Linked DNA regions of Homo sapiens: regions 2 and 3 are each linked to region 1. The links come from fine-mapping of genetic effects on gene expression. A gene starts in region 1. Each other region holds a variant in brackets. All regions are shown on one strand. Distances are between the middles of the regions.

Region 1 (5,000 bases):
AAGGCAAGAATGCCTTTTTGTTTTGTTCACTGCTGTGTCTAAAATAATGCCTGGCTCAAATATTTGTTGAATGAGTAAATATGCTGACTTTGCTGAAGTATTTAAGCAAGTTACAGATATTATACAAGTAAATATTTTGGGCACAAGCACACTTAATGAAACAGTAAAAAAAAAATAGGTTTGAAACACATAATCCTTCGTTATAGGAGGCTCAAGAGTTTAAAAGGAAAAAAGGGGGAAGATACCCAGGTAAGAGGGCATGCATGCTAGCTTTCCAATACTTTGATATTACCTGCTTTTTCTAAGACTGTATCAACCTGTCGCCCACCCATAACCTATCTTTTCATAACAGAGTCCAACTAAACCTAAAAATTAAAACTGGAACCTAGCAGCTTCTACGCAATCTAAGAATACTTTGTTCCCTCTCTCAAAATCTTTCCCTGCTTTTGAATAATTGACTTTTGAATTCATAAAAACCTTCCCTTATTAATCATCCTATTACTTGCATCATAGTAAACCCTGATCAACTCTTAAAACATTAAAAGACATTACTATATTTCTTAATGAATACACAAGACCTTTAAGTACAAATGCTTTTATATTCAGCCCCTGTAAAGCCATCAGATGTTTGAAAGTTTTTAAACACGAACCAAAGGGTTTAATTTTAAGAACTTAGCTAGGAATGGGTGAAATCCTACCCAATTAATAGAGTTCTGCAAATTAGTAACAAAGTGTAAAATGAAAGGAAGGGTCCCTTGGAGATGTGAAATTCTTCTATTGAGAGTCCTGTCTTCTTTATTCAAGAAGTTTGTAGCCATTTTCAGAATTCACTCAAGAACCAACTTCTTAATTTAGATATCAGCGAACAAGTCTGTAAAAAGCAAGTATTTGTCAGCAATATGTGCTTTATCTTCCCAGTTTTTAACACTTTATGCCTATTTACATATTGATAAAAAGAAAAGCCTAGAACATTTCTTGTAAGGCCTCTATTTTCTATCCAGAGCTGAAAGTTCAGGTCATAAAAACACACACACACACAAAACCCACTGTATTTGAGATTATCAGTCTCTACCAAAACAGGGAGGGAGAGTAAAACTCTCCCTTTACAAATGGCTTGACAGAGAATTTTATAGAAATCCCTATCCCTTTTGCCATCCTCCCATTAATCCCTCTCGCTCCCCTGCCACCCCTTTTTTTGAGACAGGGTTTGCTTTGTCTCCCAGACTGGAGTATAGTGGCACGTTCACAGCTCACTGAAGCCTCGACCTCCCCAGCTCAAGCAATCCTCCTATTTCAGCTTCCCAAGTAGCTGGGACTACAGGCGTGAGCCACTGTGCCTGGCCCTCTCTGTCTTCTCTAACTTACTACACCATCCAAGAAATGAGACAGTGAGGCTTAAGACACCCAAATCTTGGTGAAAATATAGGATGGGGGTTGGGGGTGTAGAAGAAGTGACTGCCTATCAAGAAGTGAGAATTTCAGAAGTAACTCATAGGCATGGTGACTAAGGAGTTAACAGTGAGTGAACAATCAACTCCAAAGTCCAGGAGAGCTGTCTAGATGGGCTACACTGCTCTTCTCCCATAGGAGCCCTGTTTCATCTCACTGCTTCTCCTTAGCTTGTCTCTTAACACCATCTCCATTTGGTGTCTGCTTCCTCCTGCCCTATTCTCTTAAGTTCCCTTCCTTTACCCTCTGCCAGAATTGTCTTTTCAGAGCGAGTGGCGATGAAAATGGAGAGCATGGGTTTTACAAGTAAACTCTACAGAATTTTGTAACTTGGTGTTTTAGGATATGTGGATGTGTGTAAGAAAAGGGCAAAGTGTCTCAGGTTTCTGGGAGGTAACGGTGGATAAAGTTGGCGTTTACTGAAATGGTAACGCTGCAAGGCAAGTAAATTTGGGTAAGAAGCTGTTAAGAGTTCAGTTTTGGACATGTTTAGTTTGAGACAGCTGCGTGGTCTGCTCATGGTTAAACAGCTGTATAGTAAAAATAGCTTTCGTTGAGCACTTACTACTGCCAGGCAACATGCAAATCACTACGATCTCAATCTTCACTACACCCCTATGACCTGGGTTACTAATGGTCCCAAATGGCAGATGAAAAAATAAAGCTCCAAAAGGCGAAATAACTTCTCCGGTCGCTTCATGGTGCTGCAGGAACTCAAGCCTAGCTGGTTTCATTCCAAATCATGAGAAAATATGACGCCAAGTTTTCTCCACACTTCTTTGGAGACTCCCACGGACGTGCTAAAGAAGGACATTTTACTCCTAGTCCTTCTCCCCCACCCACCCGACTGCGCCACTCACCAGCTGTGTGATCTTGGACATATATAAACTCTCTGGAATTCAGTCCCCTCCCCGCCCAAAAGCGAGCAAATGATCTCTAAGCTCCTTACCACCCCAATTTTGCATTCGAGATACTCACCATGGCAAAAAATACACAAAGAGAAACACCACCACATCGAAAAGGATGAAAAGCCAGAGGTCCAACCAGTAGGAGTGTTTGGGAAGCCCATTTGCCCCAGACTGAGGCCTCACATCGAAGTTCTGCCTCCCTCCCTCGCTAAAGCCTCGCCGCTCCCGGAGACCATCTCGACCATCAACACCCGGTGCGTCCACCTCCATCTCGCTCCTGCAGCTTCGTAACAACCCTAGAAACCGAAAATGCTTAAGTTCCCGGACTTTGGTGTTCGCCGCACCGGAAACTGAGCGGAGTCCGGCCGCCTGCGCAGTGCGCCGCGCCCCGGGTTCCGGAATGCACTCTGAACCTACTCTTCCCAGCGCGCAGGCGCCTGGCTCGGCTTTCCGCTGCCTCCGTGACCGCTGGCATGAAGCGCGGCCTCCGCCTTGACACTAAGTCAATGGGCCCGCCTACTTCTGCCTCGCGGCGTCCCAGGCAGATAGCTGGTTATTCAGGTTTCGTTGGAAGAAATACGTTCTCGTCCCCCTGAAAGGCCCAGTCCAGTCAGGTGATGGACTCCTCCCTGAAACTGCACGAGGTCACCTCTCCTATCCCCGTATTCCGTTTGGATCCTTATGCCAACGTGTTAGGAAGGCCCCCTCTGGTGGGTTTTGTACTGTCTCTAGCATTTGACACTTAATATTTAAACACCACCAATGAGGTGGACGTCCTACTCACGGGACTGAGTTTCCAAACGGGCCAGAGAGCAGCACGTGAGCATTTTGCAGGTACTTCAAGGGAGTGGGTTTAAGAATAACCTGGCCGCGCCCCCCTGTAATCCCAGCACTTTGAGAGGCCGAGGCGGGCGGATCACCTGAGGTAAGGAGTTCGAGACCAGCCTGGCCAACATGCTGAAATCCCGTCTCTACTAAAAAAAAAAAAAAAAAAAAAAAAATCCAAAAATTAGCCGGGCGTGGTGGCAGGCGCCTGTAATCCCAGTTACTCGGGAGGCTGAGGCAGGAGAATCGCTTGAACCCGGGAGGCGGAGGTTGCAGTGAGCTGAGATCGTGCCACTATTGCACTCCAGCCTGGGCAACAGAGCGAGACTCCATCTGGGGGGAAATGGGGGTGGGAAGAATAACCCAAAGGTTATTTGACTTTGAGTGTGAGCCTCAGCAAGAACAGAATGCTAGCAGGAAGAAAATGACCTATACTGCCTGGATTTTACCTCGTGGGTCCAATTTCAAATATTCTCTTTCTTGTCACATTATGATTCCTGAATTGTTCAGAAAATAACGGGCACCCAGACATATAAGTGGTTCTCTTGGTGCATAGTAAATGGAGATAAGACTGTAGTTGTGTTTTTACAAAGTCATTAAATCGTCGTAAAACCTCTTTGAAGGGGCAGTACTCCATCTTATAGAATTAGGAAATGAGACACAAAAGGAGTGAATTGTCTAAGGTTACTAAAAAAATTATAAAGCCTAAAATTAACTCCAAATCCAGCACTCTTAAAGCTGTTCCATAGCTTCCTAACCTTGCTCCAATTTGCCTCCAAATCAATTGCCAGGTTTTAGAGACAAAGATAGTATACGACCTTTCAAGAAAAATGCTTTGTAGATTCTGGGATGAGAGGGCCATTACCTGAGAATTAATTAGATTGTGTGCTGTAATACAGATTGTCTGATGGTAGTAGACAAAAAGACCCTGGGCTTAAGTGGCATTGAATCTTTACAAAAATTAGGAAAGGCAAATAAACAATTGCCTCTACCAGAGATGGAAGCATTCTTCTCGCTGACAAGGTAGGATCAATTACTCCTAGTTATTGAAGTAGGATTGATAAAAAATTATTGAGATTATTAGTGTTGAAGAAGCATGACATAAACTGAACAGGTCTTGAAATGGTTTTAAACTTGTCTTTGGCCCAGAGTCACATGCTCATCATGAGGGGATGTTGACAGTATGATCTGTTCTAGAGTCAGGAACGTCTGCCAGACTTGGAAGAGCAACTAGTGCAAATAAGGAGGGGTTATTTAAACTAAATTCAGTTGAAAGATTCTATTTCCGACTTTACCCTTGTAAAAGTCCCACTGATTGTTGATTATTCCACATTACAGAAATGAGTTTAGAGTGTGTTATGGCTGATTTTGAACTACTGGCCTCAAGTGATCCTTCTGCCTCGACTTCCCAAAGTACTGGGATTACAGGCATGAGCCACCTTGCTCAGTTGGCATTTGCCATTATCAAAGCAATTTAAATTTTAAAAAGTACTGTACTGAAATCCAGGTTCACTGTCAGTCATGCAATACCTCGGCACTTGTCCAACCACCTTGAACTTTCTACTTCACATGTTCAACTGAAAAATATGCACCAGGGACTACAGATTGAATCATTGCACTGCAACCATGATCCAACACTTCCATAATTCTGTCAGCACAATTAATCTGATTGAGCTGGGGTGGAGAAGGTGGTGTATGAAAATGCTATAACCATCAGGCCAAAGACAGCTAAGTGTTTTTAAGAAGACGTTACAGATCTTCTGAACTTCAAGTGCAATAAGTTTTCAGGAGGGAGATGATGATGAATTTTGCTTTAAC
Region 2 (8,666 bases), 270 kb before region 1:
TACTGGAGTAAGAATATTCCAGTAGATTATGACACAGTGCTTATGGCAGGGCTGCTTTTACTTTCTGCAAAGTAATCTCTTTTTTCTTTCTTTTTTGCTAAAGTTTGCTTAGTACCATGCCTGGAGTAGCTGATTTCAATGAAGCATTTCTCTCTTTGACATATTCCCTAATATCCAGGCTCCCTGGTGCCCCACTATACTGGGATGGTTTTTATCAGTCCATTTAGCTATACAGCTCTCTCCTCAAACAAGTTGCCCCGTCCTGTACCTCCTTCTTATAGTCATGGCGTTTCATTCACCTTGGCAATGGGAAGGATTTTAAAATTTATTGTAATGCAGGAGGTTACTTTCTCACTGGAGTAAAACCTTACAATGTGGAATTATCATCATCATAATAATAATGTTTTAAGACGGGGTCTTGCTCTGTCCCCCAGGCTGGAGTGCAGTGGCATGATCTTGGCTCACTGCAACCTCCACCTCCTGGCTCAAACAATCCTCCCACTTCTCCTGTGTGGCTAGGATCACAGGCATGCACCACCAAGCGGGCTAATTTTTGCATTTTTTGTAGGTTTTTTTTTTTTTTTTTTTTTTTTTTAGAGACAGGGTCTTACCATATTGACCGGGCTGGTCTCAAACTGCTGAGCTCAAGAGATCCACCTGCCTCAGCTTCCCGAAGTGCTGGGATTATAGGCATCAGCCACTGTGCCTGGCCTGAATTATTTATTTTATTTTATTTTATTTTAATTGTATTTTATTTTATTTTATATTTTATTTTATTTTAATTTTATTTTATTTTATGTTTTATTTTATTTTATTTTATATTTTATTTTATTTTATTTTATTTTATTTTTGAGACAGAGTCTTGCTCTGTTGCCCAGGCTGGAGTACAATGGTGCGATATTGGCTCACTGCAACCTCCACCTCCCGGGCTCATGCAATTCTCCTGCCTCAGCCTCCTGAGTAGCTTGGACTACAGGCGCACACCACCATGCCCAGCTAATTTTTGTACTTGTTAGTAGAGACGGGGTTTCACCATGTTGGCCAGGCTGGTCTCGAACTCCTGACCTCGTGATCCACCCGCCTTGGCCTCCCAAAGTGCTGGGATTACAGGCATAAGCCACCACGCCTGGCCTGAATAATTATTTTTAATGCCATCAATGTAAGCCTTTAACATCTTTTTTCACTCTTCTCTATTTTTTATTTCTTTAATTCTGTCTGGTACCTTTACATTGATTTATTTACTTTCTTTTTTCCTGTTTACTTACAATGCTATGAATTAAATGTTCATATTATGGTACATGATAAAGTGTGTGGCTGTGTGTGTGTTCATAAGGTGGTAAGAAGTATTTAAATGGTCTTACAGGTTAACAGGTGAATTAAAATTCAGGGCTGGTGTTACTGTTGACAGATTTGTTTCTCAGAGATGGTGGCTTGCTTTTTACAAATTATATCATTCTACTATGTCTTCTTTTTTTACTCCACTCAGATTCGAAATCAGAGCAAAGCCTCTGGGTCTGGGCTCTGTGAGGGAGATGAAGTGGTTTCCATCAATGGCAACCCTTGTGCAGATCTCACCTACCCTGAAGTCATCAAGCTCATGGAAAGCATAACAGACTCTCTCCAAATGCTCATCAAAAGGTACAACAGATTTGCTGGAATATGTATTTTCTCTTGAAGCTACATGGGAATGATTATAGCTTTTACTACATATATAACTTGTCATTTATGGAGAAATTAGGGGTGCTTTGTAGAAGGTTAGGTATAGTTAAACAGAAACACCACTGTGTTTGAAAAATAGTCAATTCTAGTCAACCAAACTTTCTGGTTAATTGAGAATTAAGTTGAAAATGCTTGTTTCAAGCACTTTGTTGAAAATCTTAGGTATTTTAGGCTCCTTCCTTAGAAAGCTCAGTATATTGAGCATAACTTAATATTTCTTTGATAGGTCAAGATTTTGTGATGGATCAGAATCACTCAATTGTAATTATCAGATGCACAGATGAATTAAAAATGTTTAAATATTAGACCATTAAACTGTACAATTTTTCATTAAAAGGATGCTTAAGAGACAGAAAAGAGAAACAACAACAAAAACTTACAAGCAGCCGGATTTCTCCAGTAAAACCAATATTTGAGGATGGACAAAAGCAGATGATTAGAATAAGGTTTTTGCACGACCAACACAGGTCATTTGGGAATTCAATCTCTTCAAATACCACCATCCCCACATAGTTGTTTAACAATATAAAAGAAACCTTTAAATGTAAAAAACAAAAGAAAACAATGAGGACAATAACAAGGAAAACTACAGCATTGACATTTTTATGGTGTACAAATCACAGTACAATCCATACTGATTTTGCAACGGAAGCTCTGGCTATTGCATGATAATGAATCCAGAAAGGAAAGCTTTGGCTTCCTGGAGAGCAGCTTTTAGGAAGATGTCAGAGGACATCTCAAGATGAACCTCAAGGTCCTCCAGGTTTTTCCTCAACTCTGCAGAAACACTACGCACAGTTACCCCTCTGCTAATCATTCAGTATGATTCTGTTCCGGGATGAAAATGAACTCACTATGGCCAAAATCTTGAGACAACAATGGAAATCTAGCATTATTCTTATAATCTAAATATTTACCCATCAAACTCAGTGTTTAAGGCCTTAGAATCCTTCCTTCATGTTATGAAGAGAAAATAAGTTTATAAAATACATAATTTACTAATACATAATTAAATTTATAAAATAAAAAAAATTACAAAGTAAGTAACTAATTGGTAGGATTCAAAGTGGAATCTCAATTGAAAATCAAGTCAAAAGCAATTATTATCATCACCACCACTACCACTATTTTAAATATCTGAATATTGTTTCCTGCAATAAATATTTCTGTCACTCATATCACTGTCATCTATCAGTAGAGGACAAGTGTTTTTACTTTTCCTGAACTATTGCCCAGAGATAGCTCAGTAAGACTATTTTAAAATAACTCCTTTAACATTCCATCTCTATTATCTTGAATGTTCTTAAAATAAGATTTTAAAAATTCTATAATTGTGACACATAAATTGTGGACTTGATGAATACCTATGTAGACTGATGGGAAATGAATGTTTTAAGGCATAAAGCTTTATTCGCTCATGCTTTTATGATATTTACTCATGTCTATTTATTTTACTTCAGCTGCTGATAAATGTTAATATTTATCTGGCCATTTGTCTGTATTGGTCTACAAGGCTGGCATGAATTGAAACTATTCTCTTCTCAGCTTCACAATTGATTGCTAACGTTATTCAAAGTGATTTAATCTACTTCCATCCCAAGGCCTTCCTAAATTAAAACTCTCTGACCTTTTGGTACCCTCAAATTCAGTTTAACAATGTATTTAACATTTTCTACATAATAATGATCTAATTTGCTAACATCATGCTTTTTTAATACGATATTATAATGTTGTATAAATACTGTATTACAGGGAAGCTTTTCCAATTACTTGCGTATAGAGAAAGGTGCATTTTGTTTAACTGTTAGTTTGTTTTCATTTTGTTTAGTTTTGTTTTGCCAAATGCAGTTGAAAGCAAAGGTAGGAGTAAGTATTTTGAGCATTGGTCGGAAATTGCACTACCACATAAATTCTAAGGTAAATTCCTTTGAGTAGAATCCAAGTAGAAGCTCACGCCCTTCAGCTGACGTGCCTGCATGAGTCATAACTGTCTTTTAAGGAAGGAGGAAAGGGGCAAAGATAATTATGCTGCTTCCAAAATTAAAAAAAATACAAATATAAAAAATGAAGGCATTTCCTACAGCTGTTCTGTGAATAATACCTCTAAAAACATTTACAGTTTAAATTAGAGTTTCAGAAAGAAGTTATTTAACTCTTAAACTGACATTGCTTCTTCTCAGAAACCCAAATTTGCACAGACAACTGGGAAGATCAAAATCAAAGAGCTGTGGTGTACAGCTCTAGGCTCCTTAGCTGAGAGATAAAGGAACAGTTTGACTTCAGATATCCTAAAAAGAAAATGCTCCAAGAAACAGATCCAAATAGAAGAAAGGGAGACATCTCAGATTATAAATACTCCATGACTTAATG[A/G]TTCATTGCAGCACGGAAAGGATTTCTCTTTACGCAAGAGTACTGGGCTGGGTCCACTTATTACGAAACACATGCTCACTGGGGCTTAAAAAACAGCTTCTATTTCATTCCTTTCAAGAAAGCACAGCCTCTAAAAGGACTAGTTGAGTTATCTGTAAGTTAAGATTGATCTGAAGGTGCTGGATATGTTTATGTGACTTCATAATGTCTAGACCAAAACTTAGTCAATAAGACATTGAAATGCTTTGTCACATTCTAGCAAACTCATTATAAGAGATACCCAGATTCCAAGTACTTACAGATAAACGGGATCCATGTAGTTTTTTAAAAATAAAAGCTGAATTTAGGATGGATTCAGGTTTCATAATCTTGTGTAAGAGTTTCTTTGTGCTTTTAAAAAAGTTTATTTGGTATCTCTTTAAGTAATAATATGAACATGTTGCCACCTTCTGTTTTCAAATATGTTGCAACTGACATTTAGAAGAAAATATTTTGACTATATCACATATTAGACATCACAAAAGTGTCAGGAAGTTCTTTGGCAGATGTAACATAGTCTGATTTAAGTGTCTGGAATGATTTTTCTGTGTGCAGACCATCCAGTGGAATAAGTGAGGCTTTGATATCTGAAAATGAAAACAAAAACCTCGAGCATCTCACACATGGGGGTTATGTGGAAAGTACCACCCTGCAGATTCGACCGGCCACAAAGACCCAGTGCACAGAATTCTTCCTCGCCCCTGTCAAGACTGAAGTTCCCCTAGCTGAGAACCAAAGAAGTGGTCCCGACTGTGCAGGCAGCTTGAAAGAAGAAACAGGCCCGAGCTACCAAAGGGCTCCCCAAATGCCTGACTCCCAAAGAGGACGCGTGGCAGAAGAGCTGATCTTAAGGGAGAAGGTAGAAGCGGTACAGCCTGGGCCTGTGGTTGAGCTGCAACTGTCCCTTTCACAGGAGAGACATAAGGGCGCTAGTGGCCCTTTAGTGGCTCTCCCGGGAGCTGAAAAATCTAAGTCTCCTGACCCAGACCCTAACTTGTCACATGACAGGATTGTCCACATAAATTCGATCCCTACTAATGAGAAAGCAGACCCTTTCCTGAGGTCCAGCAAGATAATCCAGATCTCCAGTGGCAGAGAGTTGAGAGTGATCCAGGAAAGTGAAGCAGGAGATGCGGGACTGCCCCGGGTGGAAGTGATCCTCGACTGCTCTGACAGGCAGAAGACAGAAGGGTGCAGGCTTCAGGCAGGAAAGGAGTGTGTGGATTCTCCAGTGGAAGGAGGGCAGTCAGAAGCACCTCCTTCTCTGGTATCCTTTGCCGTCTCATCAGAAGGCACAGAGCAGGGAGAAGATCCACGCTCGGAAAAAGATCACAGCAGACCTCACAAGCACCGAGCGCGGCATGCACGTAAGTTCTGCCTGGGCTTTCAGAAGGGGCTTGGGAGTTGGGGGCATTTTGCTGCTTCTTTGCTTGCATGAGTTTTTCAGCAAGATTTTTCTTATGTTTCTCATTGGCTTAAAGAAATATTTAATTAATGCACAAAATCACAAATGTGAAATTGTGGAGAATACCAATTTCTAAATAGGAAGCAATAAGTCCGAACTTCATATAGATTTAAACATTTTTCATGAATTTCTTTTTATCCCCAAAGGCACAGGAACTGTTAAAGAAAATAATATTGTCAATGTGCCTGTTCATTTTGTTTCAGACAGTTGAAATAGTTCATGTTAAAATAGCATAAGAAAGCACTTGAAGTCATGTGGACTCAGTTTAAATGTCAAAAACTGTTGAGTCTGCTACTGAGAGGTGTCTTTAAAATAAAAGCTCTACCATTGATATCAAAAGCAGATCCTTGTTTTGAAAAAAAATCATTGTGCAGCTTGATGATGCTTGCAGAAGTGAGTTTGACAGACAAGGACATGTGTATACTGAGCAGTTACATGATCCTCTCCGTTGTGTAAGTCTTCATTTGACTGCAAAGTGTTTCATCTACCTTCTAGACACAGAAGTCAGTCTCCAGGGCCATGTGGAGGCATTTAAATGTCTCCAAACATAAAATATATTTAAATTCAGTGCTTTGTATGGCATTTTGTTTTACCCAGGGGAGAGAAGACAGAAAGGAGAATTGGGATAAGAATTGCAGTTAGGTGTTAGGATTTCTATTGTTTTATTTCACGTTTATTTTTGTTTGTTTTTTTTTTTTTTTTTACTAATTTTGGAATTTTATTTGAGGATGTAAAGGCTGACAGGCAAAGGCACTTGACTGTATATATGATACACAATGGCAATGAATTCGGTTATTCAAAGTAGGATATTAAGTCTTCTAACCTATTGTTATTCCTTTCAAAGCATATTTTTAGCATAACCATTTGTAGCTTTATTGGCAAGTGCTGTTAATCATTCCTTATACTTTAAGCATCTGTAGGCCATCTTCACATTTATAGCATATTAAACAAGAGTATTGAGACACCATTCACATACTTTACATGTTGGCAGTGAAGTTAGCAGCAACTGTGCAACTGTGACTGTCAATTTAATAAGTTGTATAACACTAGTCAAAAAAGGAATTCTATTTAGTAATAACCACAGTTTCAACTATTTTTCTCTAGAAAATTCGATCACCAGTAAATGCCTGTAATCATATTATAAAATTATTTCCTTGGATTATATTTTATTTAAAAAAAATTAACCATTAAGTCTGTGACAAAAAGAGCTAATTTTCAATCATAAAATAGTCAAAAATTTTTTCTTAATTTTCCACTTAACTGTTTTGAGGAATTAAAAAATTTAGGGGACTCACAGTCATTATCATTGAAAATATGATATAACTATAAATTATAAATGATAGATGCTATATGTTTAGTTGCTATAATTTGCCACCCATTTCTTTTTTATAATAGTAATAATGAAAGAAAATTTTAAATATTTTTATTTTTATAAAATAAAAATCATATTCTTGTTTTAAATGACTTAATTTCTGCATCAGTTTTTACACAGTTAAGTGGGTCACAAGTCAATTTTTAAATTTCTCCAAGGTTTATTCTTGCTGCAAGGAAAGTAATATTGTATTTCCAAAATAGCAATACATTTACAAACAAATCTGTCTAGAAAACTTTGTAGCTAGAGTTTCTTATATGTATTTACAATAATGTCATATTTTGAATTTTAATTATTGATTCAGTACCTTCAATGATTAATTCAGTGTTTTGAATTTATATTAATCCAGTAGCTGTGAGTGGAAAGATTTGGGGTGGTTGTCAGGGTAAAAAAAGAAAAAAGAGAAAGAAGAAAACCTAAATAGCTAAATTCATTACATTAAAACATTTAGAAAATTTTAAAACATCTTCTTGGGACGCTCCTCCCTTTTTAAGATTCCTGGAAACAGTTTTATATTGACACTTTATTTTAAAATATGGAAGTATGAGATATGTCTCATCTTGTTTTTCAGAAAATATTATGTCTTTAAATTATGTCCTTCTTAATTCTAATTTTATCCTATTAATTGACATTTACTAGCCAGTTTTTATTATTAAAGTGGAAGGATCTCTAGAGAAACAAATGTATGAAACATATATTCTAATCAGCATATATAAAATATTTTTATGTAAACAAATAGAACAGTATATTATTGTAGAAGGAAACATGTTAAGAGAAATAAGAAAAAGAAATGTGTTGGATTCCTTCAAAATTCTGTACTCAATGGCAATTTTTTACATATTTATTTTCCCCCAGGAGAGTTCATTTCTGAGTTGCTGTGGTGTCTTCCTTGAACTCATCAGCTCAATATAATTTTTTTTTTTTTGCTTTCCCTAGGGCTCAGGAGGAGTGAAAGCCTGTCAGAAAAACAAGTGAAGGAAGCAAAATCTAAATGCAAAAGCATTGCCCTTCTTCTAACGGATGCTCCCAACCCCAACTCCAAGGGGGTGTTGATGTTTAAGAAGCGACGTCGGAGGGCCAGGAAATACACCCTAGTTAGCTACGGTACTGGCGAGCTTGAGCGAGAGGCGGACGAGGAGGAAGAAGGTGACAAGGAGGATACATGTGAAGTAGCATTTCTTGGTGCAAGCGAATCAGAGGTGGATGAAGAGTTATTGTCTGACGTTGACGACAACACACAAGTTGTGAACTTTGACTGGGATTCTGGACTGGTGGACATTGAAAAGAAACTGAACAGAGGGGACAAGATGGAGATGTTACCAGACACCACAGGCAAGGGAGCCCTCATGTTTGCCAAGAGGAGGGAGAGAATGGATCAGATCACAGCCCAAAAAGAAGAGGACAAGGTAGGTGGAACGCCAAGCAGAGAACAAGATGCTGCCCAGACCGATGGCCTGAGAACCACGACTTCTTACCAAAGAAAGGAGGAAGAGTCGGTAAGAACGCAGAGCTCTGTGAGCAAAAGCTACATCGAGGTGAGTCATGGTCTTGGCCATGTTCCCCAACAGAATGGCTTCAGTGGGACATCTGAGACAGCAAACATCCAGAGGATGGTCCCCATGAATAGAACGGCCAAACCCTTCCCAGGGTCTGTGAATCAGCCAGCTACCCCCTTCTCGCCAACCCGAAACATGACGAGTC
Region 3 (5,000 bases), 200 kb after region 1:
TTTATTTCTTGATTTAGAAGCAAAATATAGGCGCCTAATATTAATCTCTTCAATTTTAGGTTCTAATTCACAACAGTCCAAGTTTAGCAAGTCTAGTAGTTTTCATATAAATACCTCATACAGTTGCAAGCAGATGGCATCTATGAACCCAACTTGCATACTTGGGATTTTGTTTTTCTTCTCCCTGTTCATTAGATCCTGAAAATACAAATACAGACCAGACACACAGATGTGCATTTATTTATTTAGTTAGTTATTACTTTATTATTTTTTGAGATGGAGTCTCACTCTGTTGTCCAGGCTGGAGTGCAGTGGCACCATCTCAGCTCACTGCAACCTCCACCTCCCAAGTTTAAGCTATTCTCCTGCCTCAGCCTCCCTAGTCAGGTGTGCAGTACCACGCCTGGCTGATTTTTTATTTTTATTAGCGACAGGGTTTCACCATGTTGGCCAGGCTGGTCTAGAACTCCTGACCTCAAGGGATCTGACTGCCTTGGCCTCCCAAAGTGCTGGCATCACAGGCATGAGCCATTGTGTGCATTTATTTAAAGAACACAAAGCTGGCTCTAGAAAGGTGAATCAGTGGGTTAGCCTAGGAAGGTCAGACAGCAACTAATACAAAAAGAAAAAAAGAGGAAAACTCTTATGTTTTATTTCAAGGAAACTCATTCCAAAAAACAGAAGTGGGCTGAGAGGAATCTTTACTTGTATCTGAGATCCATACTCTATGTAAAAAGGCAGTATGTATCAAAGACCTTTAAATTCTGTTTGCCCTTCAACACGACAACTTTGGGAATTTATGCTAACAAGATAATGAAGAATGAGGTTTGGCGGTTTATCTATTCCCTTGGTGTAATGTTTGCAGTGTTCACTATTACAAACAGCACTGTGATAAACATCTATGATAGATGAAACACTGCTCTGAACACACTTCTGAGGAGAACTTTGAACAAAGGAGTAAACAAGTAGAATGCTGAGAAAACTGGGGAGACTGTGGTGGTGGCATGACATCTGGTCATCTTTCCTCCATGTTTCTTTTGGTATCTCTCCTTCCTTTCTCTGTCAGCCACAGCTTCTCTATTAAATTCTTTTGATGGCGAGAACCAAGGAGTAGGAGTGAAACATCTATGATGGATGTTTATCACAGTGCTGTTTGTAATAGTGAACACTGCAAATATTACACCAAGGGACGTAGGTAAATTATGGTTACATCGATTTCATGTAATCATGATAATACATAAGAATATTTGTTAAAATGAAAAGTGGTTTCTAATACTTAAGCGGAAAAAAACAAATTACAAAGAACACTGATACAATATGATGAACCCAAGAGTCTTTATTATGCCTTTTATTGGTTTTGCTTTCTGTAATGAACATGTATAATTCTTCCAATGAGAAAAAAGTTTTAAAAAATAAAATGAGAAATTGTGGTCCTAAGGAAAGATCCCATAGAGCCATAAAAAGGAGTCTACAATTAAAAAAAAAACAATTTGAATAATTCCTACCAACAAGGTTTCATACTTACAGTGGGTTCTATGTTGAGTTCTTTTCTCTCTCTGTCTCCTTGATCAAAAAATTCAGTTGCTACAAGTTCTGCTATCTGAAATAAATAACAGACTCAGTTTTGACAATGAAAAGCATATCATTCTTTAAAACAGAGACCGTGAATGAAGGCCCTGTTAGGAGCTGTATATCTCCATTTTATAGCAAATAAGCAGCAGCTTGATACCCGAAGACAAGTAGTCCATGTCCAAAGCGTGCTCTCTTAACTATTACATTATACTCTTTTTCACTTAGGTACATCTCTCTGTCTTTGGTAGCTTCCAACATTTTTCCCTTTTAATTTTATTTAAAAATGTTTTCTTCATTTATTTTCTCCCCATAAAACAGTATGTACAAGGGTTTGATTCAGGGGAGAGAAAGGATATATGAAGACACATTCTTCCCTCTTCTATTCTCTTACCTGGTTAGAAATAAATAGGCATATAGTCCTGTTTATTATGGGCAGGAAGGTAGGTAAAGATCACCTAAGTGCTTATGGCGTGTTGGCTTTGGCACATGGAGAATGAGTTTTTGATCTTGTTTTCTCGGCATGTCTGTTTCATGAGATGAGCCTGTAGGAAGAGTTACTAGGCTCCCTGACTAAGCAGCCCGGAGTCTTGACCAACAGCAGGCTGTCAACAATCCTAAATAGCATATTTATTACGGACTCAAAATGAAATCTTGAAAAACAAAAACACAATATATATGTCACTGCATGGACATCCATCACTTTTTCTGAGCCTGTATTGCCTCT[G/C]CAAAACATTATAGCAGTTACTTAGAGGGAAGGATTTTTTTCTAGCCTCCTGGTAACAGGCTCCATTCAGAACTTTCTCGACATCTTATATCAATACTTCCTACATCTACAAGCCCCAGAAATCTCTATGTTCTACTTGTTAATGTCTATTTAGAGCTGAGGCACAGCGTAGAAGGCTAACCATAAGAAAAGTAATTTTGCTTCTTCTAATTTTCAAGGTCATTAAAGGGATGACCTTAAGAAACAAGTAAGCCAGAAGTATAAGTTATATTCCAAATCCAAAAATCTGAAACCTAAAATGCTGGTTCAATGAGCATTTTCTTTAAGTGTCATGTCAGTACTCAAAATGCTTTGAATTTTGGAACATTTTGGGTTTTTGCATTAAGTATGCTCAGCCTTTCACACTGAAATGAAAACTGTGCTAATGTAGATGCTCTCTTTCTTAATATATCTTACAAATATTATGTGCAAATGCATCTTCTAAAAAGAAAAGCCTTTGTATGTCCAATTATCTGTTTTTAATACTACTTAAAAATTCCAAAAAAAATTCCATACTTACTTCAGAAGCTACCTTTAAGAGTAAAAACTTACTTAAAAAAATTTTTTTTATTTTAGATTTAGGGGGTATATGTGCATGTCTGGTATATATGTATATTGTGTATTGGTGGGGACTGGGCTTCTAGTATACCCATTACCCAAACAGTGAACATTGTACCCAGTAGGTTGTTCTTCACCCCTTGTTCTTTTCCCACCTTTCCCCCTTTTGGAGTCCCCAGTGTCTATTATTTCCATCTTTATGTCCGTGTGTACCTACTGTTTGGCTCCCACTTATGAGTGAGAATGTGCAGTGTTTGATTTTCTGTTTCTGAGTTAGTTCATTAAGGATAATTGGCCTCCAGCTCCAATCATGTTGCTGCAAAGGACATGACTTGATTCTTTTTATGCCTGCATAGTATTCCATGGTGCATATGTACCACATTTTCTTTATCTAATCAACTGTTGATGGACAGTTAGGTTAGTTCCATGACTTTGCTATTATATAATAAATGGTGCTGTGATGAACATATAAGTGTCTTTTTTATATAGTCATTTATTTTTCTTTAGGTAGATACCTAGTAGTGGGATTGCTGGGTAGAATGTTATTTTGACTTTTTAATTATTGTTATTGTCACTAAGTAACATACCCGTTGTTGAATAGGCCAGGGTTTTGTAATTGCAGAAAGATCACAAGCTGTCATCAGCATTGCCCTGTTATGGAAAAAAGAAACCCAAAACTCCTATTTACTTTTGTGTTATTATATACCCTCAGTAAATAGTTACTAATAAAAAAAAGTTAAAACCCTCTAAACAATGGAAATGGCAGTTTATAAAGACCAAAGAAAAAGAAACAATTTATATGAAAGTCTAACTAATACATTGATAACAGAGCATCATTGTTTCAGTTTCCCTTTGAACTTTTGGAATTTGTCCTCAAACTGCCTCATTTAGCTCCAGATTGGCAGACTGAAAAATTATTAACCTTGGGTAAAATCTTGCCTGCTTTTATTATTTTTGTCACCTTAGTATTCCATTCTCAGCGACAGTATGATGAAAGTACATTGATTACTAATAACCATTAAAGTACAACATCAGGTATCATACTGATAAAAGTCTTATATCAGAAATTATAGTAGGTCATCCTAATTCACTCAACACACATGGTAACTTCTAAATGAAAAGCCTTTGAATGATTAATCATGTTTTTCAGCTTTCTCCTTTATTGTTTCTGCATGTTGAATTATAGTTAGGAAAGTTTTCTCACTCCTAGGTTATAGAAGAATCCATCTATATTTTTATTTAATGCTTGTATGATTTAATTCTCTACATTGAACTCTATGCTTCAGTTGGAATTTAAGTCTGTAGAGTAGATCCAATTTTGTCTTTTTCCATTTGGTTATCCACTTATCTCTCTCTTTCCTCCAGTCACTGGAAATGTTATCTTTATTATACACTATATGTCTTATGCAGTTCTAGATTTTCAGCTGTGTTCCACTGGTCTGCCACCAATATCAAACTGTTTTAATCATAGAGACTTAATAGTATTCCTTCCATGTCTGGACCCTGACCTCACTGCTCTACCTTTTCAGATTTTCTTTAAGAGAAGTAAACATTTTGCAGCTATATCTTACTTCCACAACATTTATAATTCCATTTTCAGCACTTCCATTACAATGAATTAGGAAAATGAATAAGGGAAACCTATAGCCATATATTGATACTCTACCACATTTTAAAGGTTTTTCTAGAACAAAGGAACAGTTCATTCACTTGGATTTGCAAATGCATTTCTTTTCAAGTAAATATTCAAATTTACTCTTTGTACAACCCTCTGGAGAAATCTGACCGCTTTTAAGATCATCATATTGTAACAAATAATTGCAATAAAAACTAACAGTGAGGAAAAAATAGTGAGAAAATTAACTGGGTAAAAAACTTCAGCTTTAAAGATAGTAAACCTACTTACAAAAACAACTCCTTTTGATGAGGATCTTCCAAATTGAATTGATTTTTTCTTATAAGTTCAAAAAATTCTCCTCGCCTCCTACAATGTTTAAAAAAAAATTGTTAGTTATAATGAGTACCCAGGGTCTTATCCCTTTGGTCCACAAAGACTCATGGACTAAATTTTGGTGAAAAAAAACCTCTGATTTTTTTTCCCATCTTA

Which allele goes with the higher level. Alleles are on the strand shown, and positions count from the first base shown. SD is a standard deviation of normalised expression in the study named. Not every link is listed here.
In carriers of allele G in region 2, the expression in monocytes after Pam3CSK4 of the gene that starts at base 2,737 in region 1 tends to be lower than with A alone (small effect, 0.39 SD a copy in Quach 2016).

The links. PIP is the estimated chance that this variant, and not a neighbour inherited with it, causes the effect.
Region 2: its variant is fine-mapped to the expression of ARLN in monocytes after Pam3CSK4 (Quach 2016, PIP 0.95). The same link has a PIP of 0.9 or more in monocytes after LPS.
Region 3: its variant is fine-mapped to the expression of ARLN in whole blood (TOPMed, PIP above 0.99). The same link has a PIP of 0.9 or more in blood mononuclear cells.

The regions. Positions count from the first base shown.
Region 1 is chr4:119,297,909-119,302,908 of GRCh38, forward strand. ARLN (allregulin) reads right to left here and starts at 2,737. Exons shown (of 2, transcript NM_001001701.4): 1 at 2,428-2,737; 2 at 1-871. The coding sequence starts at 2,627. The coding sequence ends at 871. RefSeq lists enhancers at 2,331-2,380, 2,481-2,710.
Region 2 is chr4:119,021,944-119,030,609 of GRCh38, forward strand. It overlaps SYNPO2 (synaptopodin 2), which reads left to right. Exons shown (of 5, transcript NM_133477.3): 2 at 1,487-1,638; 3 at 4,684-5,495; 4 at 7,902-8,666. Among named protein-coding and RNA genes, the nearest start is that of SYNPO2-AS1, 42 kb to the left of the region's middle. The variant A/G (reference allele first, on the strand shown) is at 4,090.
Region 3 is chr4:119,501,056-119,506,055 of GRCh38, forward strand. PDE5A (phosphodiesterase 5A) reads right to left here. Exons shown (of 21, transcript NM_001083.4): 17 at 4,800-4,877; 18 at 3,481-3,544; 19 at 1,526-1,600; 20 at 115-198. Among named protein-coding and RNA genes, the nearest start is that of LINC01061, 93 kb to the left of the region's middle. The variant G/C (reference allele first, on the strand shown) is at 2,297.